Homo sapiens: one gene and its partners. The protein of the gene in region 1 purifies or fractionates together with the protein of each later gene. This does not show direct contact. Each region holds a gene or a part of one and is shown in the gene's direction. Other genes may lie near its edges. The genes, in order: ZMYM1, RNF146, ARHGEF26, RIC3, ABLIM1 and POLD3.

What was found.
Region 2: the proteins of ZMYM1 (region 1) and RNF146 purify together in Homo sapiens (co-immunoprecipitation; one large-scale study listed by IntAct). This does not show direct contact.
Region 3: the proteins of ZMYM1 (region 1) and ARHGEF26 purify together in Homo sapiens (co-immunoprecipitation; one large-scale study listed by IntAct). This does not show direct contact.
Region 4: the proteins of ZMYM1 (region 1) and RIC3 purify together in Homo sapiens (co-immunoprecipitation; one large-scale study listed by IntAct). This does not show direct contact.
Region 5: the proteins of ZMYM1 (region 1) and ABLIM1 purify together in Homo sapiens (co-immunoprecipitation; one large-scale study listed by IntAct). This does not show direct contact.
Region 6: the proteins of ZMYM1 (region 1) and POLD3 purify together in Homo sapiens (tandem affinity purification; one large-scale study listed by IntAct). This does not show direct contact.

What each region holds. Positions count from the first base shown.
Region 1 is NC_000001.11:35,076,882-35,082,886, forward strand, and holds the start of ZMYM1 (zinc finger MYM-type protein 1), read left to right. Parts: upstream 1-2,503; 5' UTR 2,504-2,561; intron 2,562-6,005.
Region 2 is NC_000006.12:127,276,198-127,281,439, forward strand, and holds part of RNF146 (E3 ubiquitin-protein ligase RNF146), read left to right. Parts: intron 1-4,033; 5' UTR 4,034-4,141; coding exon 4,142-4,143; intron 4,144-4,318; exon of another isoform or gene 4,319-5,242. UniProt on the Homo sapiens protein: E3 ubiquitin-protein ligase that specifically binds poly-ADP-ribosylated (PARsylated) proteins and mediates their ubiquitination and subsequent degradation. May regulate many important biological processes, such as cell survival and DNA damage response.
Region 3 is NC_000003.12:154,250,390-154,253,889, forward strand, and holds part of ARHGEF26 (rho guanine nucleotide exchange factor 26), read left to right. Parts: exon of another isoform or gene 1-838; intron 839-932; exon of another isoform or gene 933-2,726; coding exon 2,727-2,794; exon of another isoform or gene 2,795-3,500. UniProt on the Homo sapiens protein: Activates RhoG GTPase by promoting the exchange of GDP by GTP. Required for the formation of membrane ruffles during macropinocytosis. Required for the formation of cup-like structures during trans-endothelial migration of leukocytes.
Region 4 is NC_000011.10:8,161,652-8,166,893, reverse strand, and holds part of RIC3 (protein RIC-3 isoform a precursor), read left to right. Parts: intron 1-5,242. UniProt on the Homo sapiens protein: Molecular chaperone which facilitates proper subunit assembly and surface trafficking of alpha-7 (CHRNA7) and alpha-8 (CHRNA8) nicotinic acetylcholine receptors.
Region 5 is NC_000010.11:114,437,396-114,442,637, reverse strand, and holds part of ABLIM1 (actin-binding LIM protein 1), read left to right. Parts: intron 1-851; coding exon 852-916; intron 917-1,560; coding exon 1,561-1,621; intron 1,622-2,548; coding exon 2,549-2,556; intron 2,557-3,387; coding exon 3,388-3,462; intron 3,463-4,713; coding exon 4,714-4,794; intron 4,795-5,242. UniProt on the Homo sapiens protein: May act as scaffold protein. May play a role in the development of the retina. Has been suggested to play a role in axon guidance.
Region 6 is NC_000011.10:74,622,639-74,627,880, forward strand, and holds part of POLD3 (DNA polymerase delta subunit 3), read left to right. Parts: intron 1-2,769; coding exon 2,770-2,935; intron 2,936-5,242. UniProt on the Homo sapiens protein: Accessory component of both the DNA polymerase delta complex and the DNA polymerase zeta complex.

The sequences.
Region 1 (6,005 bases):
CCAAGATCACGCCATTGCACTCCAGCCAGGGTGACAAGAGCAAAACTCTGTCTCAAAAAAAAAAAAAAAGAAAAGAAAAGAAAAAGAATGAATCAAGCTTCCTATCTCCCAGAGCTCTCCTCCTATTCCTTAGGACTTAATCTTTCAGCCAGTATAAACTATTGAGACTTCAGGGCAAGAAAGACGCATGAAACTTGTGACCTACATCTACTGCTTGAAATATTGGGCCAAATTTTCAGATCTATCACTGGGGGTGGTTGGAATATCACATCTCAAAATTATCACACATCCTTACAATTTTTTATGATATCATGAATCCTACCATTTTTTCAACTCAACTCCCAAGGAAGTTAGTAATGACGATGAAACCACCATTGCAAGATTATGACTGAGACCATGAAGGAGATCTAACCTAATGGACTCCATCTTGGTTCTAACTTTAAACTGTCCTTGTTCCTTCCTGGGCATAGGCTAAACTAACTTTGGGAGGAATTTAGTTTATAGTTTAAAACAAAGACAATAACAGCCCTTTCCCAAAACAAACCTCCTCCTTGCCTGGGGACTAGACTGCCTTTATAAGATTAACAAATTAGCCACAAGATTAGAAATTATGGTTTAGGAGTCATGCAGCTGGAGGCCAAGATTCTGACCCTCCCTAAACTGCTCCTGAGACCAGTGCTTGAGATATTTTGCAGACCCTGCACTTGATGGATCAGCTGGTACCACCCAGATAGATAAACAGGCTCATCTGATCTTGTGGCCCCCACCAGGGAACTAACTCAGCGCATGAGGACAGACAGCTTCAACTTCCCATTATTTCATCTCCTACCTAACCAATCAGCGCTTCTGGCTCACTGGCTTCCCCCCACCCACCAGTTGTCCTTAAAAACTCTGATTCCCAAATGCTCGAGGAGACTGATTTAAATAATAATAAAATTTCAGTCTCCCGCACAGCTGGCTCTGCGTGAATTACTCTTTCTCTATTGCAATTCCCCGTCTTGATAAATGGACTGTGTTTAGGTAGCGGGCAAGGTGAACCCACGGGGCATTTACAATGACATCACTTGCCTTTGGATGCCCACTGAACCAGGACTCATTTCTGGGTTCCAATCTAATCCCAGTCACTGAGTTGCTGTGTAACTTGGGGCAAATTACCTTTATCCTCTTGCCTTCAGCTTTTCCTTTGGTAGGAAGGGAGCATTAGAGGAGAGATCATTTCAGTAAGGTCCTTTCTAATCCTAACAGTCTAAACAGATTATTATGAATATTAGAAGGTAATAATAAATGTTGGAGAAATTAACTTCAGTTACTCGTATAATATTTCAAATTACCAAAGGGTTTATATTAGATTTGAGGCTAATTCCAAAGGATATTTAAGGACCATAGCAGCAAGGATTAGGAGGCCCTTTTGGTCTGGACCTCACCTTCACAAGGGCCTCAAATTTAGATTTTTGAGAATATCTCCTTTAAAAGTAATTGTCAAATATGATTATAATAAGTTCATCATTCAACCTTATATATATATTTTAGAATCCTCTTATGCCTTTAGGAATAGCACAGTTAGTTCGTCCTATACTTTTTTAGGTGTTGAAAGTATTGTCAAAAAACATTTAAAATATGCCATTATTTTTGACATGCAGTTTGGGGTTATTTTAATTTTTTTTTTTTTTTTTTTTTTTTTTTTTGAGACGCAGTCTCTCTCTGTCGCTCAGGCTGAAGTGCAGTGGTACAATCTCAGCTCACTGCAACCTCTGCCTCCTGGCTTCAAGCGATTCTCCTGCCTCAGACTCCCAAGTAGCTGGGATTACAGGCGCCCGCCTCCATGCCCGGCTAATTTCTGTATTTTTAATAGAGACGGGGTTTCACCATGTTGGTCAGGATGGTCTTGAATTCCTGAACTCAAGCAGTCCACCCGCCTCGGCCTCCCAAAGTGCTGGAATTATAGGTGTGACCCACCACACCCAGCCTGGGGTCATTTTAATTTTAACGTACTAATGAAAGAAGTCTGAACTCCCTCCCTACCTCTGAGGATAATTTCCTTTTACTAGGAATTTACTCTGCAACTGGCACTTTGCTAACATTGCCTGTCATATTTTTTTTTTTTGAGTCCAGCTTCTGCAGAAGCCTGCCTAATGTTTACAAACCTACGATGCAGCCACTACAATTATCCCCATTTCAAGGTCGAAGAAATGGAGATTTATAGAAGTTGTCAAATCGCTTACTAGCACACAGCTAATAAGTAGTAAAGCCATCTCTCAAATCCAGGAAATCTAACTGCCCTGCCTGAGCTCTGAGTCAAGGGTCCTACTTTGGCTGCCAGCCAGCGACGACTTCAAGGGTAAGATCCTATGCGGGCCGTAAGGACTCTTCCCCTCCCCCTCTCCCACTTCTTCTATCCCAAAGTCGCTCTTCCCAATTCAGGGAGCTGGGACCACCCTGAGCCAGCGGCCCTGCGCATGCTCAACCGCAGAGCACGACGGGAGAGGGGCGGGGTCGGCGGGGCCGTTTCGCTTCGAAGATTGTTTCAGAAGCGTTGGGCGGGGCGTCCCTGAGAGAAATTAGTAAGCCTCCTCATGCGGCTCTGGTTTCGGTCTTTACTCCTGCGCCTTACTCGAAAGGGGCAGGGTTTCTGCTGTCGGTCGGAGGGAGGATGACGCGCCGGGTCGGGGTTTTAGAGACGGAGCTTTGAGTGCGGATTCCGCCAGATGGGGGTCGGGAACTCCGGGCCAGGCCCTGACGTGGATTGTGTTTGCCGCCTCCTTTAACCTTGCCCTCATAGACTGGGGGGGTTAGTGCTCCCCGCTTCCAGCGATTCTCGCCGCCTCCTGCTCCTGTGTAGTAACTGGGCCTTCAGACTTTAGTCTCGCTCCGCAGCCTCCGTTTCAGAAGCCCCATCACACCTGTATCTCTCCTTCATTGAGCAGTGATTTTTCAAAAGTTTGACTCCTGGCCGGGCGTGGTGCCTCAAGCCTGTAATCCCGACACTTTGGGAGGCCCAGGCGGGCGGATCTCTTGAGGTCAGAAGTTCGAGACCAGCCTGGCCAACATGGCAAAACCCCGTCTCTACTAAAAGTACAAAAATTAGCTGGGCTTGGTGGCAGGCGCCTGTAATCTCAGCTACTCAGGAGGCTGAGGCAGGAGAATCGCTTGAACCGGGAGGCAGAGGTTGCATTTAGTCGAGATCGTGCCACTGCACTCCAGAGCGAGACCCCGTCTCAAAAAAAAAAATGAAATGTTTGCTGAACCCCAAAAGCACAGTTTGAACGCTGCTGATTTACAAGATTAATTTTAAGGTATTTGGTATCAGGGACCTTCCTGACATGACCCATGTCTACTTTTCAAACTTTCCAGTTCCTTCTACTAGCACTCTTGCACTTGTACTTTATCTGCAACAACAGTCCCACTCCTTCTAGTTCCCATATATTTGTGCTTCTTTTTTTTTTTTTTTTTTTGGAGACTGGGTCTCGCTCTTTGGCCCAGGCTGAGTGCAGTGACACGATCACGGCTCACAAGCAGCCTCAGCCTTCCGAGCTTAAGCGATCCTCCCACCTCAGGTTCCAGAGTAGCTGGAACAACAGGTGCTCCCCACTACGCCCAGCTAATTTTTGTATTTTTTGTAGAGACAGGTTATCTTCATGTTGCCTAGGCTGGTCTCGAACTCCTGAATCGAAGCAATCCACCTGCTTGGGCCTCTCAAAGTGCTGGGATTACAGGCTTGAGCCACTGTGCCCGGCTATTTGTGGTTTTGTACATGCTGTCTCTATACCAGGAATATCCGCCATCATTGGTTGGTAGACACTTTAAAACCCAGCTCAAATTTCACCTCCCAGAAGACTGACCGTCTTCTTTTTTCATTTCTTCTCAGTACCTTGTATATACTTACTGGTTGGGACATCCTACTCATCAGTGTAACCCGGTACCAAGGCACTTCGGAAATGATGGCTCTTCATTGCCTGCAGAATTAACCATGGACATTTTAGTTTGGTTTGAAAAACATATAGCCTTCTGCCTCCAGCCTTCCCATCAGGCTAGTAAAAGACCTTGCAGAACTCAGTTGAATAAAATAATTTTTTTTTTTTGAGACAGCATTTCACTCTTGTCTCCCAGACTGGAGTGCAGTAGCGCGATCTCAGCTCACTGCAACCTCCACCTCCAGTTCAAGTGATTCTCCTGCCTCAGCCTCCCAAGTAGCTGGGATTACACCACACCTGGCTAATTTTTGTTTAGTAGAGACAGGGTTTCACCATGTTGGCCAGGCTGGTCTAGAACTCCGACCTCAGCTGATCCACCCTCTCAAAGTGCTGGGATTGCAGACAGGAGCCACCGTGCCCGGCCGAATAAAATAAATCTTAGCAAAGTGTAATGTATAAAGAAGTGGTATAATGCGAAGAAATAAGGGATAGGAGTATATCTGCTTCCAGACTCTGTTTTGTTTTTGCTTGTGTCCATACCACACTATCTTAATTTACTGTAGCTTTATAAGCCCTTCCAACATTTTTTTTTTTTGATATTGTCTTGGTTATGCTAGGCTCTGTATGCACATTGTATATACATTAGAATTACCTTACAAATTCCACAAAAACCCCTGCTGGGATTTTCATCTACAGCTTAATTAGGAGAAAAATTAATATTGACTCTTTCCATCAATGAGCATTTATTTAGATCTTCCTTAATTTCTCTCAGCAATGTTTTGTTTTCACTGTAGAGTTCTTTAATAGCTTTCATTAGATTTATTCCTATATTTGATATTTATGATGCTGCAGAAAATGGTTATTTTTATATTTTTCTGTTCTAGTATAAAGAAATAAAATTGATTTTTTGTTTGTTTGTTTGAGACGGAGTCGCACTGTGTCACCCAGGCTGGAATGCAGTGGCACAATCTCGGCTCACTGTAGCCTCTGACACCCAGGTTCAAGTGATTCTCCTGTTTCAGCCTCCTGAGTAGCTGGGATTACAGGTGCCCACCACCATGCCCAGCTAATTCTTTTGTATTTTTAGTAGATACGGGTTTCACCATGTTAGGCTGGTCTTGAACTCCTGACCTCAGGTAATTCACCCATCTCTGCCTCCCAAATTGCTAGGATGACAGGCGTGAGCCACTGCACCTGGCCAAAATTTATTTTCGAATGTCTTGCTAAGCTTAATAACTTGGAGATTCTTTTGAATTTTCTTTGTATAGAATCATGTCATCCATGAATAATAACAATTTTAACTGCCTTTTCAAAGTTTGTCTTTTATTTTTTCTTGCTTTATTGATCTAACTAGAACTTCTACTACAATGTTGAAGATAAGTGATAAGAAAAATTCTAAAATGCGGATCTTGTATTATCCTATAATTCTGCTGAATTCACTTATTCTAATAGTTTCTTTTGCGGGGGGTGAGTTGGGGGAGGTTCCTTAGAGTTTTCTATATGCAGTCATGTCTACAAATAAAAAGTTTTCTTCCTTTCCAACTTTTTTTTTTTTTTAAATGGAGTCATGCGCTGTCACCCAGGCTGGAGTGCAGTGGCATGATCTGGGCTCACTGCAACCTCCACCTCCTGGGTTCATGCAGTTCTCCTGCCTCAGCTTCCCGAGTAGCTGGGATTACAGGCGTGCACCACCATACCCAGCTAATTTTTGTATTTTTGGTAGAGATGGGGTTTCACCATGTTGGCCAGGCTGGTCACGAACTCCTGACCTCAAGTGATCCGCCTGCCTCAGCCTCCTAAAGTGTTGGGATTACAGGCGTGAGCCACCACGCCTGGCCTGCTTTCCAACTTTTATGCTAAATTCCCATCTACTATTTTACTTTAGCTTAAAGAATTTCCTTTAGTGGCCGGGCGTGGTGGCTCACCCCTGTAATCCCAGCACTTTGGAAGGCTGAGGCGGGTGGATCACCTGGGGTCAGGAGTTCCAGACCAGCCTGGCCAACATGGTGAAACCCCGTCTCTACTAATAATACAAAAAATTAGCCAGGAGTGGTAGTGCATGCCTGTAATCCTAGCTACTCAGGAGGCTGAGGC
Region 2 (5,242 bases), on another chromosome or scaffold:
CTCAAAGGCTTAATAAATGAGGGTGATACTGACACAAGATAATCAGGCTGAACAATAGTCCAGGTGAGAGTTATGTAGGTTTAAACTAGGGCACTAGCAATGGGTAGAGAGTACAGGATAGATTCCAAAGGGATTAGGAATAAAAGTTGACAGAATTTATGGTGTGGTTGGTTGGGGTGGGGGAGCAGGGGGCTGTGTGGTGAGAGAAAGGACTTTCTCTTTTTCTCCATGAACACAAAGTAGTTAAGACATGAAACCTGAGATGTCATATTGTAAGAATTATGCAGAAATGGGGGTTTGTAAAATGTGTGTATATGAGATAAAGATATGAGGGGGCCAAGGGTTCTGTTAAGAAGTAAAAAAGATTGGGTTCCAGAATGGGCAGGAAAGGAAATGAGATCAGGAACTGGATAAAGGAAAGGAGATGGTCAAGAGATGGTAGGTCCCCATGAAATTGAAGAGCAGGTGTGGGAATGAGTAGGCTGGAAGAACCAGAGCTTGTGATCTGAGAGTCGGATTAAGATTTCAGAGAGGCAGCAGTTTAGGTGACAACTAGCTTTAAATGTGATTATAATATTTGGTTGCTGGAGAGTAGATTAATTTCTTCAAATTTAGGATTTAAGGAACTGAAAATTGAGGATGGTGTTTCTCAGATTGTATTTGAAGGACTAAAGCATGAGTACCACCTGGGGTGAGATTCCTAGGTTTAAACCTATGTCTACTGGCCTAGAATTTCTAAGGAAAGGGGCTGAGAATATGTATTTCTAACAAGCAATTTCAGTGATTCTGATGAATAGAAGTTGGGACAAGTTTAAGAACCTGTGCAATAGGTGTTGGATGGTTCATTTTCAAGGCTATTTAAATAGGCTGATAGTCATGTCAGGAGTTAGGATGAAGAGGATGATCAGTAGTGAAAAGATGACATTAATCCCTTACAGGTGGTGAGAGAGCAGTTTTAGGGGATTATGGGGTATGTTAAAGTCAGTGTGATAGAGACTTGAAAGAAAAAGTAATGATGTTGGAGCAGTAAATTGTCTCCTCCTGTCCTATATATAGGGAGTGTATGAAAATGTGCAGTTTTCTGTTTGGCGTAGGCTGCAGCAAGGAAATGAACATAGCCTTCTTTGATGCCATTGAAGTTGTAGGCTCCTTGAAGTTGGTGAAAGGGTTGAGAGGAAAGTCAAAATAGTGGAGTCCATTTCATCTAAAGTCAGAGTAAAACAAAAAGGTTACTTAGAAACCTTGTTTAGTCAGTATATTAGGCAGTGTTCTCTAGGGGGACAGAACTAATAGAATATATATATGAGTTTATTAAGTATTAGCTTACACGATCACAAAGTCCCACAACAGGCTGTCTGCAAGGAGCAAGGAGAGCTAGTCCGAGTCCCAAAACTGAAGAACTTGGAGTCTGATGTTCGAGGGCAGGAAGCATCCAGTACAGGAGAAAGATGTAGGCTGGGAGGCTAGGCCCATCTTTCTTTTTCACATTTTTCTGCCCGCTTTATATTCACTGGCAGCTGATTAGATTGTGCCCACCAGATTAAGGGTGAGTCTGCCTTGCCCAGCCCACTGACTCAAATGTTAATCTCTTGGCAACACCCTCACAGACACACCCAGGATCAATACTTTGTATCCTTCACTCCAATCAAGTTGACACTCGGTATTAACCATCACAGTCAGTTACTTTTGAAAGTTCTCTGATTTTAAAACAAATTGTTTGTTCTGTTAAACATTTGGTAGGATAAGTCAGCTTGTATTTAGGGGCCACATAATGGCATTAAGAATATGTTTCTTTAAACACTAGAATCTTAAGATACCGTAGGGAGATAGATGCCCATAGTATGAGAGCCACATGGAAATAAAAGAAGATTGAAGTCTCCTCTATCTTGTGTTTACTGTGAGATCTATCATTTCTTTAGTTATCATGTGTTCTTGATTATTCTGTGTAATATGATGTGCGTCCTGTAGTGGACATGGTGAGGTGGAGATGGAAATACTAAATGAGAAGAAAGAAGATTAATGACTGAGATGGTACAGGTTTTTAAGAGTACAATTCCATGTAGTTAATTTCATTTACAATGTTATGCAACTATCACCATTATAGATTTTCCACAACTTTTTTTTAGCATTACAAACAGAAACTCTGTACCCATTAGGCAATAACTCTCCACTTTCCTTCCTTCACTCTCTGGTAACTTCTGATACCTTCTGCTTCTATGAATTTGCCTATTCTTGATATTTCATGTAAGTGGAATCATACTTTTCTGTATGTGGCTTATTAGTATGTTTTCAAGGTTCATCTATATTGTAGCACATATTTCTTTTTATTACTGAATAATGTACTGTTGTATTTATAGACCACATTTTGTTTATCCATTCATCTGTTGGTAGATACTTGAATTGTGTCCACCTTTTGCCTAATATTTCCGCAGTGAATATTGGCATACAAGTGTCTGAGAACCTCTTCAATTCTATTGCTATATCCCTGGGAGTGGCATTGCTGTGTTAGCTTTTTGAGGAAGCAACAAATTATTATTCACAGCAGCTACACCCTTTTACCTTCCTACCAGCAGTTTTCAAAGGTCCTATTTTTCTACATCCTCACCAACACTTATTATTTTTCCCTTTAAAAAAGTTGTAGCCTCCTTATAGATGTATCATTGTGATTTTGATTTACATTTCCCTAATTACTAATAATGTTAAGGATCTTTTTGTGTGTTTATTGGCCATTTGTGTATCTTCTTTAAGTTCTTTACTCATTTTTTGCTCACTTTTTAATTGGTTTGTCTTTGTTGTTGAGCTGCAGTTCTTTACATATTCTGGATATTAAACCTTTATCAGATACATGATTTGCCAAGATACTCTCCCATTCTGCAGTTTGTCTTTTTATTTTCTTAACAGTGTCTTTTGATGCACAAAAATTTTAAACTTATATAAAGCCCAATTTATTTCCTATGTTTCTCATGCTTTTGATGTCATATCTAGGAATCCATTGCAAATCTAAGGCCATGAAGATTTGCTCCTGTGTTTTCTATTAAGAGTTTTATGGTTTTATTTCTTATATTTAGGTTATTGATTCATTCTGAGTTAACTTTTATATATAGTATACGGTAGAGGTCCAGCTTAATTATTTTGCATGTGGAAATCCAGTTGTCCCAACAACATTAGTTAGAGGTGCCTGTTTTCCCCCATTGAGTAGACTTGACACCCTTTTGGAAAATCAGTTGGCTATTGATGTATGAGTTTATTTCTGGACTCTCAATTCTATATCATTGGTGTATTTATCTGTCCTATGCCAGCACCAAACTGTCTTGTTACCTTAGCTTTGTAGTAAGTTTTGACATTGGATTTTTCAAGATTGTTTGGGTTACTTAGGGTCCTTTGCAATTCCATATGAATTTGAGGATTGCTTTTCCATTTCTGCAAAAAAGGTTGTTGGAATTGTGATAGGAATTATGTTGAATCTGTAGATCACTTTGGGTAGTATTGTCATTTTAATATGTTAAGTCTTCCAATCCATACATCACTTGTCTATTTACTTAGCTCTTCTTTAATTTCTTTCAGTAATGCTTTATAGTTTTCTGTGTACAAGTCCTTCACCTCCTGGGTTAAGTTGATTCCTGGCTATTTTATTCCCTTAGTTACTTTATGAATGAACTGTTTTCTTGATTTCTTTTTTGGATTGTTGTCTCCTGGTGTATCAGAACACAACTGATTTTTTTGTGTGTCAAACTTGTAACCTGCAACTTTGCTGAATTTGTTTATTAGCTTTCTTGGGGATTCTATGAGATCTTCTATCTAGAGAGAATAGACATAGTTTTACTTCCTCCTTACCCGTCTGTATGCCTTTATCTCTTTTCCCTAATTTGCTCTGCTAGAACTTACAGTCATGTTGAATAGCAGTGGTAAAAGCATGCATCTTGTCTTTAATTTTTCCCACTTTTAAGATAAAGTTTTCCACTGAATTTTTTGAAAGGATTATACATAATTAACTGATTCTCTTGATCTTAATTACTCTTTTTTTCTTTTGCAGCACAAAGAATGAACCAGCAGTGGAAGAGAAAATACTGTAAGCTGGCTGACTGCTGGTGAAGAAAATGCTTTATTTTTGTGGCAGGCATCTGTGGGATCTGTAATAGAAATGTAAGTGTAGCATCATGGTTTTTTTCAGTGCTGCAGTAAATTAAATGGATTGGTTTAACGTGTGGTAAATTGAGTATCTGTCATATGTAGTTTTAATTATATTAAATGAGCATTTTCTTTTGACTTATAGGTGCTTTATTAACAATTTATTTACATTAAGTTATCGTTAATGTAGATTTCCAAGTCTCCTCAAAAGGAAAAGTCTCTATAAGAAAAACTGAAGACACAGGAGTTTGCTCAAAGAATGCTGAAATAGATCTCCAGGTCCTCTGGGTTCTACCTTCTTTTTACATAATAATTTTCTTAAATAACTAAGCTAGGCAAGTAGTACTAGCTTTTGTAAATAAGACAGACTACTAGGTTATAAAAACTCTAGTTACTAAAAACTTGTTTCACTAAATTAAAGGAATTTCTACATAATTGATTTTTTTAATGTAATAATACATCACTGCATTTTATTCATATCACTTCACTCTGATCCCCAGTTTTACTAGTTGTGCTTTCATCATTTATCTTTGCATGATATGCTTTAAAGTGTTACACACTACCTTGGATTTGTCCATATTTAACTTCACCGTATTGATGAAACATTTTTCACTATGAATATATTTCTGTTTTCTAAATTCATATAAGCCCTATGCAACTTGATGTCATTCATGAAAAATGTAGTGAATATTTTATTGACTTTTAATTACAGTGTTTTTCTTATTAGAGCAAGAGTGACCTTGGTAGATGCTATTTCACATTTTCCCAGTTTGACATAAAACTCTTGCTTTCTACTCTTCCAGTATGATACTGGTTACATGTAATGATATGTATTAACAATAATTAATTTATTATTAAAAGTATGACCATATTATTTTTATTCAGTATTGAAAATTTGATAATTGAAAAATGATACTAATAAGCATTTGTCTTTAAAAATATATATTTTATTTAATCCTGTCCATTTATCTATCTGTATACATTTTTTAAAATCTTAATAGGTCAGATAGTCTAGGTGCTGGTCATCAAGGAACTTACTGTGATCCAGTAAATGAGACATGTATGTAATTAACAAACAGTGGAATAGATGCCATATTAAGGTAACAATCAGATG
Region 3 (3,500 bases), on another chromosome or scaffold:
GGGTGGGACTCACTCAATTGAAAGTCTCAAAAAGCTGCTCCTTTTAGTGATAGCAACAAGGAGTGTCTTGTTCTATCCTCTGGAGTCCCTGTGAGGGGTGGCCATGTCTAAGAGATGCTATTAGCATCCAGGCAGCATGCCACAGAAGTGAAAGATTTCATCTGGACTTCTGGAAACTGGCTGTAGGGCAAAGCCACTGCTGATACTGGCCACTCAGTGCCAGAGACGGTGTCTGTGTACAGGAAGATCTGCCTCACTGGCTCCAAGTTGCTCTAAATTGCTCCAGAAGACAGCAGTATAGGCTATGTATAATTTGTTTCAGTATGGCATAGAGAGACACAAATGGATCATTTTAGATTTCTCTTGGTGAGCAACACTTCTATTCATGAGGTATTTTGTTTTCGATTGGCTTTGTACTTTGCAAATTCCACTTGAGCCTGTGTAAAAAATAGATCTTATTCCCAATAAAGACATCATAGCAAAGATACAAGTGTTTGCCTGGGAATTATTTTACATGAAGTTGTGCTTTGCTTATTTCTTACAGAACTATTGTAAAGCCCTTTGTCCTGTATTAGAGAGAGAGAGAGAGAGAGAGGTTTTAAAAGCAAGACAGGAGCCTTGGCTTCTATATAAATTGTGCATATTACTACTTGACACACCATCTTGATCAAGGCCCAGCCTCATCTTAATCTTTGAAAATGCCTGTCTTTCAAGATACCACAGTTTCCACCCTTCCTGCCTTCCATCATTATTTTGTAAACACCTGCTGCGTAACACCACCTCTTTGATTTCAGACTGCCTGGGTTAGGTGCTTAACATACCAGACTTGCTTTGTCCTCTGAAAAAAATAGAAATAATTTTGGTAATATTTTCTTTTCAAGATTGTTGTAAAAATTAGATTAGATGATACTTGCAATTGTTTAGTACCATACCTGACACATAGGTGCTTCAGAATATTATTTAGAACAAGGCCCAATTCCTGCCATTCTGGAGTTTATAGCCTGGTAAGAGAAGCAGATGAGTCAGTAAATGATTGGGCTCAATATGTGATGAGTTATATAATTCATTCATTAGCAGACATATACTGAGCCCCTGTTACGTGTTGGGCAATGTTGTAGAGATAATGCAGTGAACCAAATGGATAAGCTGCCTGCTTTTATGAGGCTTACTGTTGACCAGCAATATAATAGAATTGTGCAGAGGGGTGCCCTAGAAACAGGATTATCAGACTGGGATGGAGATGGAAGGATTGGTTTATGTATCAGAGGAGCCCCCACTGGAGGAAGTGAGCCTTGTGTTTTCAGCATTGAGTGGATATATGTTGAGCAAAAGAAGCCAAATACAAAAGCATACATACTAAAGGATTTCATTTGCAAAAAGTACAAAAGAAGCATGGTAATAGAAATTCCATGGTAATGGAAAACAAGAGCAGTCACCTTTGGACAGAGGTTATTGATTGGAAAGGGTCAGAATGGAAATGCCTGGCGCATCTGTGTCTTGGTAAGTAAACACAGAGCTGTACACGCTTATGATTAACTCAGTTTATGTTATGTATGTTAAGAAATTTTAATGGCAATAATGAGTGGGCTTATCTACGCAAAAACAGGGAAGGAATAGGAAAGGCTGGGGCAAGGGTGCTATGTTCCAATGCGGTAAGTCATCCTCTCTGCCTGGGTTGGAAGGATGCATATGGGGATGAAGGTGGGGTGACAGCGACAAGCATCTGTAGATTCAGGCTGCTATGAGAGAAGAGTTTTTTTCCCCAGGTGTTGGTCATGAAGGCATTTTTTCTTAAGAATGTAGAGTGGCACAGTAGAAACTGACTTTGGTTTGAATTGCTTGCCTCTGAACTTCTGTCTGATCTTAGCATCCTTCAGATGGGCTTTTGAGAGGATTACATGGAATAGTGGATGTTGAGTGCAGTGTCTGACATGTAGCATGTGTTTAATAAATACATAAGAGAGTTAAAAGTATGTGTGTGGCGGGGCAGTATTTAATTAATTGTAATTTTAATACTTGGTGCTCAAAATAAAAAACCAGGGTGACTGCATTATGTAGAGAAGTGCTTGCTTATCTGAAACTTTTGATCCTTTAGTTGAATAATTATTTTTATGTAATTATAGCTTAATATTATATTAAAAGTATTGGTCATTTTTCCTGTGCTCATTAAACCATTTTAAGCATTTGGGAACAGTGTAAAAGTGGCCAAAGAATTTCTATTTCAGTAAGACTCATATTTGGCAAAATTAGTTGTATGAGGGATGAGACAACTAAATATGTCAAGTTTCTCAAGTTTACGGAAAGGTTTGAGTGTGTGGGAAGGGAAGTGGGGAGGAAGCAGAGAAATTAGTAGGATTTTTAAAAAATGAAACTTAACTGCTTTTGAAATGTTAAACATCAAATTATGGGTATGCTAAATACCTTTTGGAGTTATAATGTGTTCGTGTAATCAGCTCCTTATTAACTTTTAAACTGTCATATGGGAAGTTCCTTTTAATCAATAATGAGCCAAGTTCATTCAGACTCTTTTGACAATGATGACTAGTCTCCTGCTTATTTTAGACTTTCCAGCTTATCACTTTTAAACTACTCTCACCCTGTTTTACCATACCTCTCTAGAGAATCTCTTGTTTTCTGGGAGTGCCTTTGCATTGGCTGCCTAGAAAACACTCCATTCTGTGTTTTTACACCTTGAGTCTCTCAGTTGGATCTGCCCTCTGTTTTAGGAGCGAGCGAGCCCGCTGGATAACTGCCCTGGGACACAGCAGCGGGAAGCCGCCTGCAGACCGAACCTGTAAGTTCTCTCAAGGGGAAGCCCACTTGGGAACATGGATGGGCTCTGCCCCCTGCTGGACGCCGGGTTACTAACGAGTTATATTGCCACAATACTTGCCTAAGTTTCCTCCAGGGCTTCCTTCTGCTTTACACCAAAAATGTATGATCCTTGCTTTGGAAGTCAGGGGGTCTGAATTCAAATCCAAGGTGCATTTCTTTGTTGTGTAAACGTGTCAAATCATTGCTTAGCATTGCAGAGCCTATTTAACCATCTGCAAGTCAGTTACACCATTATATACAACATGGGGTTATTGTGAAGATTAAGTTAAATAATCTATGTTAAAAGCCCTACTTGAACTGTAAAGCCCTTAAATTTTTAGCTATTATCAGTGGGCAACAGTTGATCATGTTTAAACCTTCTACATACTGACAGTCTGGATTTAAGCTGAAAAGTATTTTTAATCTAAAAGAAAATTACCTAAGAATTCTTTTTGACCTTCTAAGAAAGTGTGTTTCACTATTCTAGAGAATTAGAAACTGGCGCAGTGAAGGGGGGTGTTGTATGCCTATTAGCTTCCTAACTTTGATGCTGTGGTTTCTTAGATTATTACAGTTGCAAGGTCAAATCCAAAGAATTAGAACAAAACATTGTTATCCTGGAACACTCAAAAATTATAGCTTTAAGCTTAGATTAAAAGCCAAAATGACTGGTTTGAAAGTTCCCG
Region 4 (5,242 bases), on another chromosome or scaffold:
TTCTCTTTCCCTTTCCCTGGGTCTCACTCTGTCACCCAGGCTGGAGTGCAGAGTCATGATCACAGCTCACTGCAGCCTCTACTTCTAGGGCTCAACTGATCCTCCCACCTCAGCCTCCCAAGTAACTGGGACTACAGGCACATGCCACCATGCCTGGCTAATTAAAAAAAATTTTTTTTGTTTTTGGTTGAGATGGGGGTCTCATTGTATTGTCCAGGCTGGTGTCGAACTCGTGGGTTCAAGTGATCCTTCTGCCTCAGCCTTCCAAAGTGCTGGGATTACAGGCTTGAGCAACTGCACTCAGCCTAAAACTGTATGTTCTCTCTAGAAAAAGGTACATACTCTTATTGTACTCAGAATTTCAGTATCAATTCAGAGAATTCTCAGAACCCAGAAATCCCTGCTTTGAAGAAAGGAATAACCCTGAGTATTTGAAAATTCTTAAAAATACATGTTGTTATGTCTTCCATTTTTGCCCATTGATGTGCATGAAACAAGCACAGTTCCCTTTCCACATGAAAGCCTTTAAGATAGTCTTTTAACAAATATTTATGATGTACCATATCACATACTGTGCACATAGTGTATAGACACTATGTATTCCAAGAAAAAATGAGCGAACTCCATGCTTTGAGGCGGCCACAGTTTAGTAAAGGAAAGTAGACATGTCAACAGATAAATGCAAAACAGACATGTTAGCAGATAAATGCAAGAGTGTCAGTCACAGTTACTCAAGTCTGCGCAGGGAACAATGGAGACATGTATGCAATGGTCAGTGTTATTGGGACTTAAGAAGGGTTTCATAAACCAGGTGTGACAGCTCATGCCTGTAATCCCAGCATTTTGAAAGGCTGTGGTGGAAGGATTGCTTGAGCCTGGGAGTTCGAGACCAGCTTGGGCCACATAACAAGACCCCCATCTCTACAAAATAAGTTTGTTTTTTTTCAATTAGCTGGGCATGGTGGTGTGCACCTGTAGCCCCAGCTACTCTGTAGGCTGAGGTGGGAGGATCGTTTGAAGTTTGGAGGTCAAGGCTACAGTGAGGTGTGATTGTGTAACTGCACTGCAGCCTGGGCAACACAGTGAGACTCTGCCAAAAAAAAAAACAAAACAAAACAAAAAAAAAACCCCAAAAAACAGGTTTCATAGAACATAGAGGAGGGAAGTCTTTTTTTTTTTTGATAACAGCTTTCTTGAGATCTAATTTATATATCATACAATTCACCCACTTAAAGTGTACAATTTATTGGGTTTCAGCATATTCAGAGTTGTACAACCATCACTACAACCAATTTTAGAATATTTCTTCAGCCCCCAAAGAAACCCTGTACTTTTTAGCTATTACTCCACAAATCCCCCAGCCCACCTCCAGCCCTAGGCAACCACTCATCTACTTTATGTCTCTATAGATTTGCCTGTTCTGGACATTTGGTATAAATGAAATCATATAATATCTGATCTTTTGTGACTGACGTCTTTTAACTAGCATAATGTTTTCAAGGTTCATCCATGTTGTAGCATGTAGCAGTACTTTTTTTATGGCTGAATAATATTTCATTGTGTGGATATACCACATTTCATTTATTCATTAATCAATTGATGGACATTGAATTTTTGCCTTTTAGCTATTATGAATAATGTTGCTACTGATATCTGTGTACAAATTTTTGTGTAGACTTAATGTTTTCATTTCTCTTGAGTGTATACATTTGGAAAATGTGAGCATTCCAGTGTGGCTGGAACTAAGCGTGGAATTTCTAGGTTGTATGGTTATTACATGTTTAACCTTTTGAGGAACTGCCAGACCATTTTCCAAAGCAGCTGTACCATTTTACATGACCACCAGCAGTGTAAGAGGGCTTCTGGTTTCTTGTCAATACTTGTTTGTTATCTGTCTTCTTGATGATAGCCATCCTAGTAGGAATGAAATGGTATCTCATTGTGATTTTATTTGCATTTCCCTGATGACTAATGACATTGAGCATTTTTTGTGTGTTTATTCACTCTTTGTCTATTTGTATATCTTGTTTTGGAGAAATGTCTATTCAGGTCCTTTTAACCCTCTTTAAAAGTCAGATTACTTGTCTTTTTTTTTTTTTTTTTTTTTTTTTTGAGAGAGACAGGGTCTCACTCTGGTGCACAGGCTGGAATACAGTGGTGCCATCATTGCTCACTGTAGCCCCAAACTCCTGGGCTCAAGTGATTCTCCCACCTTACCCTCCCAGGTAACTAGGACTACAGGTGTGTGCCACCATAGCTGGCTAATTTTTAAATTTTTTGGCAGAAATGAGGCTCTCACTATATTTCCCAGGCTGGTCTTGAACTTCTGGCCTCAAGTGATCCTCCCACCTTGGCCTCCTGAAGCACTGGTATTACAGGTGTAAGCCACCACACTTGGCGTCTTGTCTTTATTGTTGAGTTGTAAGAGTTCTTTGTATATTCTAGGTACAAATCTATTATCAGATATATGATTTGCAAATATTTTCTTCCATTCAGTGGTTGCCTTCACGTTCTTGATGGTGCCCTTTGAATAAGAAAAGTTTTACATTTTCTCTGACAAAGTCCAATTTATCTACTTTTTTCTTTTGTTTCTCCTGCTTTTGGTGTCATATCTGAGACAAATTGCCAAATCCAAGGTCATGAAGATTTATGCCTATGTTTTCAAGTTTTATAGTTTTTGCTCCTGCAGTTAAGTCTTTGATCCCTTTGAATTAATTTGTGTATATGGGTAAGGTAGGAGTCCAACTTCATGTGGATATATAGTTGCCCCAGCACCATTTGTTGAAAAGACTCTTCTTTTCTCATTAAATTGTTCTGGCACCCATGTCAAATCAGTTGACTCTAAATGTAAGAGTTTGTTTCTGGACTCTCAATTATATTACATTAATCTGTATACTTATCCTTAGCCAGTACCATGCTGTCTTAATTATTGTAGTTTTCTAAGTTATGAAATCGTGAAATGTGTCCTCAAACTTTGTTCTTCTTTTTCAAGATTGTTTTGCTATTTTGGGTCCTGTGACCTAGCATTTCCATAGGAATTTTGGATCATCACTTTGGTTTCTGCCAAAAAAAAAAAAAAAAATGCCAGTTGGGATTTTGATAGAGTGAACTGAAGCAATTTGGAGAGTACTGCCATCTTACCAATATTAAATCTTTCAATCTATGAACAGAGGATTTCTTTTTTATTTATCTAGGTCTTTAATTTATTTTAAAGGAGATTGTAGTTTTTAGTGTGAAAGTCTTATTTTGTTAAATATATTCATAAGTATTTTATTCTTTTTGATGTTGTTATAAATTTTGTTTTCAGATTGTTCCTTAGTGTATAGACAATTAGTTTTTGTATATTGATACTGTATCTTGTCACCTCGCTGAACTTGTCTGCATATAGAGATAGTTTTACTTTTTTTTTTAATCTGAATGCCTTTTATTTTTATTTTTACTTTTTTTGGCCTAACTGCCCTAGCTGGAACCTTTAGTGCAATGTTGAATAGAAGTGGTAAGAACAAACATCCTTTCTTGTCCTTGATCTTAAGAAGTATGCTTTACTAGCATATGTAATGTTATCTGGGGGCATTTCGTAGATGCCTGTTTTCAGGTTGAGGAAGTTCCCTTGTATTCTTAGTTTGCTGAGTGTTTTTCATTATGAAGGGGTATTGAATTTTATCAAATACTTTTTTTCTATGTCTGTTGAGATGATTATGAGATGATTATGTGAGTTTTGTCCTTTACTGATGTGGCATATTACATTAATTGAAATTTAGATGTTAACCCAGCTTTACCTTCCTTGGCTAAATTGAGGAGGCAGTTCTTAAAGTGTTTTGGGGGGTGTGTGTGTGTGTGTATGTGTGTGTGTGTGTGTGTGTGTGTGTGTGTGTTTAAATAATCCAGATGAAAAAGAAGGGCATTCTAGGTAGAAGAAATACTGAGCAAAGAAACACAGAGGCTTAGGGCCAGGCACGGTGGCTCATGTCTATAATCCCAGCACTTGGGGAGCCCAAGGCAGGCAGATTGCTTGAGGCCAGGAGTTCGAGACCAGCCTGGCCAACACGGAGAAACCCCGTCTCTACTAAAAATATAAAAATTAGCCCAGTCTGATGGTGCACGCCTGTAATTCCAGCTACTTGGGAGGCTGAAGCAGGAGAATTGCTTGAACCTGGGAGTTGGAGGTTGCAGTGAGCTGAGATCCCACCACTGCATTCCAGCCTGGGCGACAGAGTGAGACTCTGTCTCAAAAAAAGAAAAAAAAAAAAAAAAAAAAAAAAAAGAAGAAGCATGGAGCCTTGAAGTATCCTCAGAGTTGTGAGAGAAGACACCAGAGAAGTTGGCACGGGCCAAATTGTGAAGGTTTTTTTCTGTCATTCTTAAGGAGATTGGGTTTTATTCTAAAGGCAGATGAGGCATCATTGAGTGTGTAAGGAGAAGAGAAACATTTAACCTGGTTTTAGAAAGGACACCCTGGCAGCAGTGTAGACACTGCGTTGTGAGGATTTCTTCAGGGAGAAGATTGTTGTAGTCATCCAGTTGAGACATCATGAGCATCACCAAGTCATTGTCATTGGGTTCACCAGTTAGGGTGCTTGTGACAAGTGACAGAAAAGTCAGCTTGACTAAGACAGGGAATTTATTGACTTGTGTAAATGAAAAGACCCTGTGTTAGAAATGTCTTGCAGTATGGTTTGAACCAGAGACTCACAGTTGTCACACTGGGGCTCTAGCTCTTATTTTCTGTGTCCTTTTCACTCTGGGTTCGTTCTCAAGTTGGTTCTGTGCTCTGGCTGCCCTCTCAGGGTGGTAGCAATGGTTGCAACAGTTTCGGACATTACCTCCTCACATTCCATTGCCCGGAGAAAGTGAGTGTCTCATTTATAGCAACAGTTTCGGACATTACCTCCTCACATTCCATTGCCCGGAGAAAGTGAGTGTCTCATTTATAGCAACAGTTTCGGACATTACCTCCTCACATTCCATTGCCCGGAGAAAGTGAGTGTCTCATTTATAGCAACAGTTTCGGACATTACCTCCTCACATTCCATTGCCCGGAGAAAGTGGGAGTGTCTCATTTATATACGTGTGTGTGTAGAGCTGGCCTGGAACTCCTGGCCTCAAGTCATTGTCCCACCTCAGCCTCCTAACGTGCTGGGATTACAGCACTTTGCTGGGCACAGCTCCAGGCCTCTTTTCTTTTAAGTCCTCCATCACTCTCACCTTCCAGCCTCACTCCCAAGATTCTTTCCCAGAAGTT
Region 5 (5,242 bases), on another chromosome or scaffold:
TTATAACCCCGGAGCCCACACCCTTACCTGGAATTCCCGCTACCCTTCATAGATGCCTCACTGGCATTGATCTTGGATTCGGTGGTTTACAAATCTTTAGAGTTCCTTGGAATTCTGAGATTCTGCTCTATAAGAATGTATAACATTGTACCTGCATAGATGAAGAAATGAGGACTTCAGAAAGATTAAACACCATGTCCGGAGATACAGAGGTATTAAGTTGCAGAACCAGAATTCAAGCCCAGGGCTGCTCCCTCTCAAGCCCAGCAGCTTATCAGGCTTCCATATCATTGACAGATACCCTGTATCAGGCCTCCCAGGAGGCCAGCTGTAGATGGCTGGTAGATCTTGATAACATACAGGGTTGGCTTCCAGTTCAGTTACTGCTGCCTTATCAACTGGGGCATGGGCTAATGTATTCAGATATCCCTGATTTACATCCTTGCTCAGCTGTTTAGAAGCTTAGTAACTGTTGGCAGGATATTTTTCTTAGCCCCTATTTCTCCTTCTGTAATATGGAACTAATAATCATAGTGTTATTAGGGTTATATTGAAGATTCAAAGAAATAAAGCATGCTGAACACTTAGCTCCATGCCAGAGCTATAGGAAGCACAGCCAGCTTCAGCCCCCACTCAACCGCGTGGACTTGACTTTCCCTTCCCTCCTCAGTCATATCACTGTCCACCCACTCCTTGCAAATATGATGGCATATTTTTGAACATTTGAGCCCAATATGATTTGAATTTTTTTGGTATTTCTATCCTGTGAGGTAGAAGATACTGCCAATTTCATTAAAGGATTGGACCTTCTGATTTCCTAACAATTGGTTTTTTACTTTTTTCTTACTCAGCTTCACATATTCCATCATCTAAAACTGCATCTCTCCCTGGCTATGGAAGAAATGGGCTTCACCGGGTAAGATTTCTCCCCGATTCATTGTTTCTGCCTTTACTCCCACCTCGGCCCTGGTTGAAGTATTGACACATTGCCTGAATACGTCTGACTCTTGATCTCAGTGTTGGAACATAATGAAAATTTTAACCTCCCTGGTTGCCTAGTAAATTAATTTGAGTTACAGGCAAAATAAAATGTTTCTATTGAGAGAAGAAGAAATTAACTTTAGATAAAAGAATGGCTTGTGTATGATTATGGGAAAACTAAATTGCAAAACTGTATGGCAAATATTTTTTACAATGAAACAAAAAGTAATTACTTGAACCATTATCTTTGCTGTAAAAAGATATAAGAATGTGTGTTATAACCATCCTCCTCACAAAAGATGGAACAAATACAATTATGTAACTATGTAGGACAATGCATTTTTATTTATCAGCAAGAGATCCCTGCTTACCAAGAGCCTGCTGAGTGGTGGCATTAGTACACTAAAAAAGACAAAGAGATGGCATAGCAGTAGAAGAATCATAGGGAAAAAAAAAATGAAGGTCTGACATTTAGCTTGGGAAGAATTCCTAGGATTTTGTAAACTCTTTCTTCCTTTTCACCTGACTCCAAAACGATCACTATGGAGATTTCCTAATAATTGTTTTTCCTCATTTCAGCCTGTTTCTACCGACTTCGCTCAGTATAACAGCTATGGGGATGTCAGCGGGGGAGTGCGAGGTGAGGCTCCCATGGCCAGGCTGAGCATGGCCACGTCTTCCCTCGAGGCTGAGGTTCATGAGAGTCAAGTATACTGGCTGTGTTCATGCTGTATTGTATCCTTAGAGTAGGATCACATCTGTCTTCTGTGAGCTAATAGGGCAATTATTTACAAAATTTCAAAGAATATCTAATGAAATCAAACTGTAAGAAGTGAGTTTGTGAGAATTTATTCATTGCTCATACTATGTGCTGAGCACTCTATCAGATACCTAGAGGCCAGGCATGGTGGCTCATGCCTGCAATCCCAACACTTTGGGAGGCTGAGGCGGAAGGATTACTTGAAGCCAGGAGTTCTAGACTAGGTTGGGCAACAAAGTGGGCCTGTCTCTACCAACAACAACAAAAACAACAACAACAAATTATAATAATTAGCTGGTGGCACATGCCTGTAGTCCCAGCTACTTGGGAGGCTGAGGCAGGAGAATTGCTTAAGCCCAGGAGTTCAAGGCTGCAGTGAGCTATGTTCATGCCACTGCACTCCAGCCTGGGTGACGGAGCAAGACTGTCTCTTAAAAAAAAAAAAAGTAACTGGAGGTACAACAATAAGTGAGACATGGCCCCTGCCCTCAAAATGCATATGGCAGAAAGAAGGTCTGTGTGATGAACATTGGGATCAGAGATGCAGAGAAGGAAGCAGTAAGTACCTTTAGGTTGTCAGCGAAAGCTTCCAGGGGAAAATGTTTTAACTGTTAACTAACACTGGACCAGGCATTTCTTGGCTTCAGGGAGGCTGATGGGATAACATGTGCAGAGTCTGGGAGCAGAAAAAGAACATGGTTTATAGGGCGAATATGTTGGGAATTTCAATATAATATAGTCTGTGAATGGTTCCTTGCTTTTCCATGGTCTTTCCCTTATGATATTTTCTTTTCCTTTCCTTTTCAGATTACCAGGTATGGAACACTTTGTCTTTCTTGAATTGGCCACACCGATAGAACAGCCATGTTCCAACCCAGACTGCTGGCTCCAAGGCAACAGTTTCTGTTGAGAAGATGCTTGTTGTGGTTGATCTCTCTAGTCATTACTCTATAGCCGTGAAGAGCAGACATGCCTGGTGCCTGGGTCAAGCTGTCCCTGCAGGCCTTGGGGACACTGCATGAACCAGGCCAGGTGTAGGGGGTCTCTCTTGCTTTGGCCTTGGAGAGTCCTCTCTGGGGTGGAAGTGGACCAGCATCAAGGGTCTGCTCATATACAGTTTTTCTTCTTTTAATTATAATCTCTCAGTACTTTAGGCCACCCTTTTCCTGCGCGTTCTCAAATGAAAAGACACTGATGTCTTAGCCAATAGGAGAGAGCAGTTTGCCCTCATGACATTCCTTTCTCACTAGAACCTCAATCTTGTTAAAAAAAGAAAGAAAGAAATGTGATGGAGAATAAGAAAAGAAGAAAAATGCATAGAAAATCATGATTAAAGATAAGAAACTAACAATAATAGACTTGGGCATCTTTTAAATGTACTATATGCTTTCATTCATGGAGCCTAATTCAGGAATTTGTCCATAACCATCAAGCCAAGATCTCTCCCCAACTTGATTGCAAAAGAGCTGTATTCCTGTTCCTATACAGCAAGGATCTCATTTTGAAAAATACATGGTCATTTAGATGACACAAATAAAATAGTGGTTAGGATTGGAGACCCAACAGGGAATTGGGAGCCCAAGAGTACTCCCTTCAGTTTCCTAGACTATTTCATGCCTCACCTGGAACTGGCATTTCTGTTGCAGACACTCCCAGATGGCCACATGCCTGCAATGAGAATGGACCGAGGAGTGTCTATGCCCAACATGTTGGAACCAAAGGCAAGTGCAGCTGTTCTTTTTCCTCTCATATGGGAATGGCGTAACCCTAAACAGATTTGATGTTCTATCTTTTCATCATTCTCAAAGTGTTGTAGGCTGGTGTGTTCAGGTGAGCCATGTCATGAATATGCACCTTGCCATTCTGCTGTTTTGCCCACATCAGGTCAGCAGGTTAAACCCTTACTGGGCATGATGCTGTGTGTTTACAGTGAGGTGCCAGTCCCTCTCTGCCTATGACCAAGGTATTCCCTTGGCCTCTGCCATGTGCATTACAGAGCATATCCGGTGCTGAGTGGAGTGGCTGCAGACTCACCATGTAGGTGAGGCAACCCTGTTTCACCATTGAAAGCCCTGCATTTCAAGAACCTCAGTCCTGGGTACACTGGGGTGACTGGCCACCCTAGCTCCAGAGCACCCTGTACCTTCAGAGTTGTCCAAGGGCTCATGCTCCCTGGTGACCATAACCAGGGCTTATTTCAATATGGCAGTTGCCAGAGCACTGCTTCTGGGCCTGCCTGGCCCCATAGATTCATGAGCTAGTCATGGGACAAGATTGTTAACCCCAGCACAAATGCACCCTGCCCTATAACAGCATCCTATAAAAGGTAACACATTGGCTGGGCACAGTGGCTTACGCCTGTAATCCAAGCACTTTGGAAGGCCAAGGCGGGTAGATGGCTTGAGTTCAGGAATTTAAGACCAGCCTGAGCAACATGGCAAAATCCCATCTCTACTAAAACTTAAAAAAAATTGCTTGGCATGACGACATGTGCCTATAGTCCCAGCTACTCGGGAGGGTAAGATAGGAGGGTCACCTGGGCCTGATAGGTTGAGGCTACAGTGAGCTGTGATCACACCACTGCATCCAGCCTGGGCAACAGAGCAAGCCCTGTCTACAAACAAAAAAAGAAAAACAAAAACAAAAAACACGTGCCTGTAATTTCCATTATCTTCTAATGTTTACCTTCATCCCAATACATAGTAAGTTAGTGTTCTGCCACTCAACAAAGCCCCCCTAAGGCTCAGTGCTACCTGAGACACTGGTGGAAAGTTGAGAATGTCTAAGATTCTGTCCCTGTCCCCTGGAAACTGGAGCTTCCACTGGCCTTGCAGAAGGAAGACCCATCACTCGAATTCTGTCATGACAGTCTCTTGGAAGCTCTATCTTGGGAGTACTAGCGTTTAGGTGGATTCTGCTTGTTAATAAAATGGACTGTGGTGTTCTAGAAGAGGTGTTTTCTTTCTTCTCAGATATTTCCATATGAAATGCTCATGGTGACCAACAGAGGGCGAAACAAAATCCTCAGAGAGGTGGACAGAACCAGGCTGGAGGTAAAACAAAACCGAAAAATCCAGTCCCAACTGCAGATCCCTATGCACTCCCCCAACTCTCCCCTAAGCAATGTTTTATTTCTTCAGTGAAAACAAAAAAAAATTATAAAGATCACCCTCATGTCATAGGTAGAACTAAGAAATAACTTTGGAGAAAAAAAATATCCAGGTTTTCACTTAGATCAGCATAAAAATGCCTGGTAATATCCAGAAGAATGACCCAGGAGGTGGGCATGGTGGCTCACGCCCATAATCCCAACACTTTAGGAGGCCGAGGTAGGCAGATCACTTGAGGTCAGGAGTTCAAGACCAGCCTGGCCAACACGGTGAAACCCTGTCTCTACTAAAAATACAAAAATTCACGGGGCATGGTGGCAGGTGCCTGTAGTCCCAGCTACTTGGGAGGCTGAGGCAGGAGAATCGCTTGAATCCAGGAGGTGGAGGTTGC
Region 6 (5,242 bases), on another chromosome or scaffold:
AGAGAGTTCACTGTGGGGACTTGAACCATTTAAAACTTAATACTGGACAGTAACAAGTGTTGGCAAGGATGTGGAGAAATTGAACCCTTGTGCTCTGCTGTAGGGAATGTAAAATGATGTGTACTCACTTTGGAAAATGATGTGGCAGTACTTCTAAAAGTTAAACATAGAGTTTACCCAGCAGTTCCTCTCCTAGATATCTACACAAGGGAATTAAAACTGTATGTCCACACAAAAACTTGTACAAGATGTTCATAGCAGCATTCTTCATAATAGCCAAAAATTGAAACAATCCAAAAGTCTGTCATCTGATGAATGGATAAACAAAGGTGGTATATCCAGACAATGAAATGTTATTCAGCTATAAAAAGTAATGAAGTACAGATGGATATGTGATATGACATGGATGAACCTTGAAATATTAAGTGAAAGAAGCCAGATAGAAAAGATCATATATTATTTCATTTATATGAAACGTCCAGAATAGGCAGGTCTATAGAGACAGAAAGTAGGGGCCGGGTGTGGTGGTTCACGCCTGTAATCCCAGCACTTTGGGAGGCCGAGGCGGGCGGATCACGAGGTCAGGAGATCGAGACCATCCTGGCTAACACGGTGAAACCCCATCTCTCCTAAAAAAATACAAAAAATTAGCTGGGCCTGTTGGTGGGCGCCTGTAGTCCCAGCTACTCAGGAGGCTGAGGCAGGAGAATGGCGTGAACCCAGGAGGCGGAGCTTGCAGTGAGCCGAGATCACGCCACCGCGCTCCAGCCTGGGCGACAGAGAAAGACTCTGTCTCAAAAAATATATAAATAAATAAATAAGTAAATAAAGGTTGTCAGGGGCTGGACTGGGGTTGAGGAGGAATGCTAATGGGTTCAGGGTTTCTTTCTGGGGTGATGAAAATGCTCTAAAATTGGACAGTGATGGTGGATATACAACTAAAACGCTGAATGTAAAGTGATGAATTTTATTGTATGTGAATTATATCTCAATTTTTAAAAGTAACGCTTTATATGTAATAAAATTCAGCATTGATGACAAAATTTAAAGGTCATAATTGGTTATCTTTATTTGCTTGAAAAGGTTTCGTGTTTTCTTGAGTATAAAAAGGAAATGCTTTTAATCAGCTAGAAGATAGGTGACTTGATCATTCAGGTAACAAAAAAAGTCATTAAATTTTCCTTAATAATTGCCTTACAATGTTGCATTAAACTACCTCTTTACCAGTTAATTGGCTATTGGTAGCTGCATATATGTTTAAGTTGGAGTTCTCAAAATTCTGTGAAACCAAGACAGAAGAAACTCTGGATGCTGAATCTAATGTTTGATCAGTGGCATTTTAATTCAGATCAGTTTTCTGTAATTGGTAAACTCAATGCAATAGCCTCTCTTTCCTTAATCCATAGGTAGGTAGGAAGTATTTGGAGGTTTTTTTCTCCTAATGATGCAATTTTTAAAACAATTGCTATTAAAACAATATAATTTATGTGATAGATTGCAAAATTTGCATAAATTTTAAAGCTACACATGTGACTCCAGTGAACTGTATTTTTTGGATTGGCTGTTGACCCCTAGACCCCTGGAGATGCATGTTTACTCTTCTATACAATTTGGGATATTTGAGAGGCACTGATACTTGAGAACAACAGTTGAAAATGCAAGAGTATGCCATCGTTGGGAAGGTGGATTCCACCATTCGCATTTTCCATTCAAGTCTTCAGGAAAAAGAAAAGTATAAATAGATTGCATTTTACACTTTGGTCCATCAACTACCCTTCAAATAATACACATTATTTATAAATTATTGTACTAAGCTATGCATAATAGCCCAGACTATGATACCAATTTTTTTCTACACTGTAGATGGTTTAAGCTATTATACAACATATAACCAAAACTACTTATTGAAGCACCTCCAGCTAATGACAGCTTTCTAATAGTATTTTGTGCCTTTACTTGTGAAAAGCTATCACTAAGTACAGCGTGAAGGCTAGATGACATGCTTCTATAGTTCCTCAGATGGCTAGGCCTGTTTGCATTTCTTAGTTCTCCCTGCTGCACTGTAGTCATTCTTCAGCTTGGTGTAGGGAAAGGGTTAAGGACTTTGAGGAGTTAAACTGACTTTGGTTCAAATCCCTACTCTTTTCTGTCAGTGTTACCTGGATAAATCATTTAACCAATACTGATCTCTTTTAATCCTTATGATAATCTTGTAAATATTATCTCAGGTTTAGAAAAGACTGACTTAGATAAAATAACTTGCCCAGAGTGAAGCGGGGTTTGAACCAAACTTCTTTGACTCCAAAATAGTCTTTAAATTTTATCATTAAGGTAGTAGTGAGATATTAAGGGTATCCAGGCATTAAAAGATAGAATATATAGAAAGCAAAGGTCTTGCTGCAAATCGTTGTCACCATTTGTAAACTGTGTATTGTTGGGAAACATCTTGTAATCCTTCTGATTCTTGATTTTCCTCATCTGAAAATGAGAAGGATGATGCCTCATAAAGTTGTATGTGTTTTTTCTAAGCCTTGCTTTTACTATCATTTAGCCTGGGGGCTGTGATACAATGAGGGATTAGCAGGAGGCAGAAATGAAAAGTTACAGTTAGAGTGGTAGTTGGAAAGGAGGAATGTTTCTGAATAGTCCATGAGCTCCTTTTTGCCCCTGCTCCTAACATATTACCTGGCACATGGTAGACTGTCAAAAGAATGATGTATTAATATTGCATGATGGGGTCATATGTCGTCTGCTATACTTTATTTATAGATAAATTTAAAGTCAATTTGGACTCAGAACAAGCAGTGAAAGAAGAAAAAATAGTGGAGCAGCCTACAGTGTCTGTCACGGAACCAAAGCTGGCAACTCCTGCAGGCCTGAAAAAATCCAGCAAAAAAGCAGAGCCTGTTAAGGTGCTGCAGAAGGAAAAAAAAAGGTAGGAAAATTTTGTTGCTTATTGGGGAAGAGTCTTTACTGGGGGTGAGAAGGTCTCTTTGGGCTTATTGACAGCAGGCAGTTTTCAGTTAAGTACTAAATCCTACTTAATGCCTAAGGGATACAACTATACAACCAAAATGGAAAGAGAAGCCCAGTAGCTTATCTAGTGGAGTAGGACCGTAGGATCAGCCAGTTTGGATGATTTAAGGACCAAAGTCGTGTTTTTGGCCGTATTGATCTAAATTGATTGTTGATTTTTGTTTTAAATTTGTGGACATGGCATAAGTGTGCCTAGTTGTGTGTGTGTGTGTGTGTGTGTGTGTGTGTGTGTTTCACTTCAAATTGCCAAATGAACAGTTACTGTTTCCAGTCAAATTTAAGAGAAAAACTTCTTTGTTTTCTTTTTATATCAATGAGTTTATTTTTCAAGTGGTAAAATGTAATTAGAAAAGAAAATAAAAAGCACATAAAGCTATTAAAACTAGATCCAGGAATTGGAGACACTACCTCATAGTTGGTAGAATTAGTCTGCTGAAAGAAATTCTAAAGGACACTGTCAACACTGATAGGCCTAGAAAGACGACTTTTGTGGCAAGTTTGGGACTACTCTCGTTGAAAACATCAACAAAATGGTGAAATTTTAGAGGGTTAAAGCTCTGTCCAGTGGGCCTCACCACCTAGGAACATATGACTTGTATGGATTAAAATGTCCACAACCATGGGTACGTCACTCACTGTTGATACTTATTGCCAGCAGTGCATTCAGTATTTCACTACTAAATGTGATGATAAATGTAGATTTTTAATAGATGCCGTTAACCAGATTGAGGAAGTTGTTTTTTGTTCCAAGTCTGCTAAGAGGTTTTATCATGAGTGGGTATTGATTTTGGACAGATGCTTTTTTGAATTGATTGGATGCTCAGATGGTGTTTTTATTAATGTGGTGAATTACACTGATTTTAAAATGTTAGGCCAACCTTGTGTTCTTGGGATAAACTCCACTTGGTTATGATGTATTATCCTTTTTTATATATTGCTGGATTAGATTTGTTAATATTACACTAAGCATTTGTTGCCTGTGTTTATGAGGTCTACAGGTCAGTTACATTCTTTTCTGGTAATGTCTTTATCAAGTTGCTGTGTCAAAATTGTGCTAACTTCATAAGATTACTCATGCGCTGCATAACGATGTTTGGGTCAACAATGGGCTGCATATATGACAGTGGTCTCGTAAGATTATAATGGAGCTGAAAAATTCCCATTGCCTAGTGACATCATAGCTGTCATGACATGGTAGCGCAACACATTCCTCACGTGTTTGTGATGATGCTGGTATAAATATACCTACTGTGCTGCCAGTCATGTGAAAGTATATCATATATATTAATAGTTATATATACATAATACTTGATAATAAAAATGACTATGCTACTATAATTACTGCACTATACTTTTTATCATTTTAGAGGGTAGTCTTTCTACTTATAAAAAAAGTTGACTGTAAAATAGCCTCAGGCAGCCCTTAGGAGATATTTCAAAAGAAGGCATTGTTATCATAAGAGATGACAGCTTCATGTGTGTTACTGCCCCTGAAGAAGACCTTCCAGTGGGACAAAATGTGGAGGTGGAAGACAATGATCATTGATGATCCTGACCCTGTGTAGGCCGAGGCTAATGTGTGTTTGGGTCTTAGCTTTCAACAAAAAAAGTTTAAAAAGTAAATAAAAAATTTTTAAAATAGAAAAAGGCCTATAGAATAGGGATATAAAGAAGAAAATATTTTTGTACAGCTGTACAATTTTTTGTGTTTTAAGCTGTGTTATTACAAAAGAGCCAAAAAGTTATAAAATTGAAAATACAGTTAAAGTAAGCTGTTTATTATTGAAGAAAGAAAAACATTTTAAAATAAATTTAGTGTTGCCTGAGTATCCAGTGTTGATAAAGTCTACAGTAGTGTACAGTAACATCCTAGGGCCTTCACATTTCACTCACCGCTCACTCACTGACTCAGCCAGAGCAACTTTCAGTACTGAAAGCCCCATTCGTGGTAAGTGCCCTATACATGTGTACCATTTTTAATCTTTTTTATACAGTATTTTTACTGTATCTTTTCTCTTTTTAGATGTTTAAATACACAAATACCGTTGTGTTACAGTTGCCTACAGTATTGAGTACAGTAACAATGATGTACAGGTTTGTAGCCTAGGAGCATAGACTATACCATCTAGGTTTGTGTGAGTATACTCTGTGATGTTCACACAGTGAAGTCACCTAACAATGCATTTCTCAAAATATGTCCCTGTCA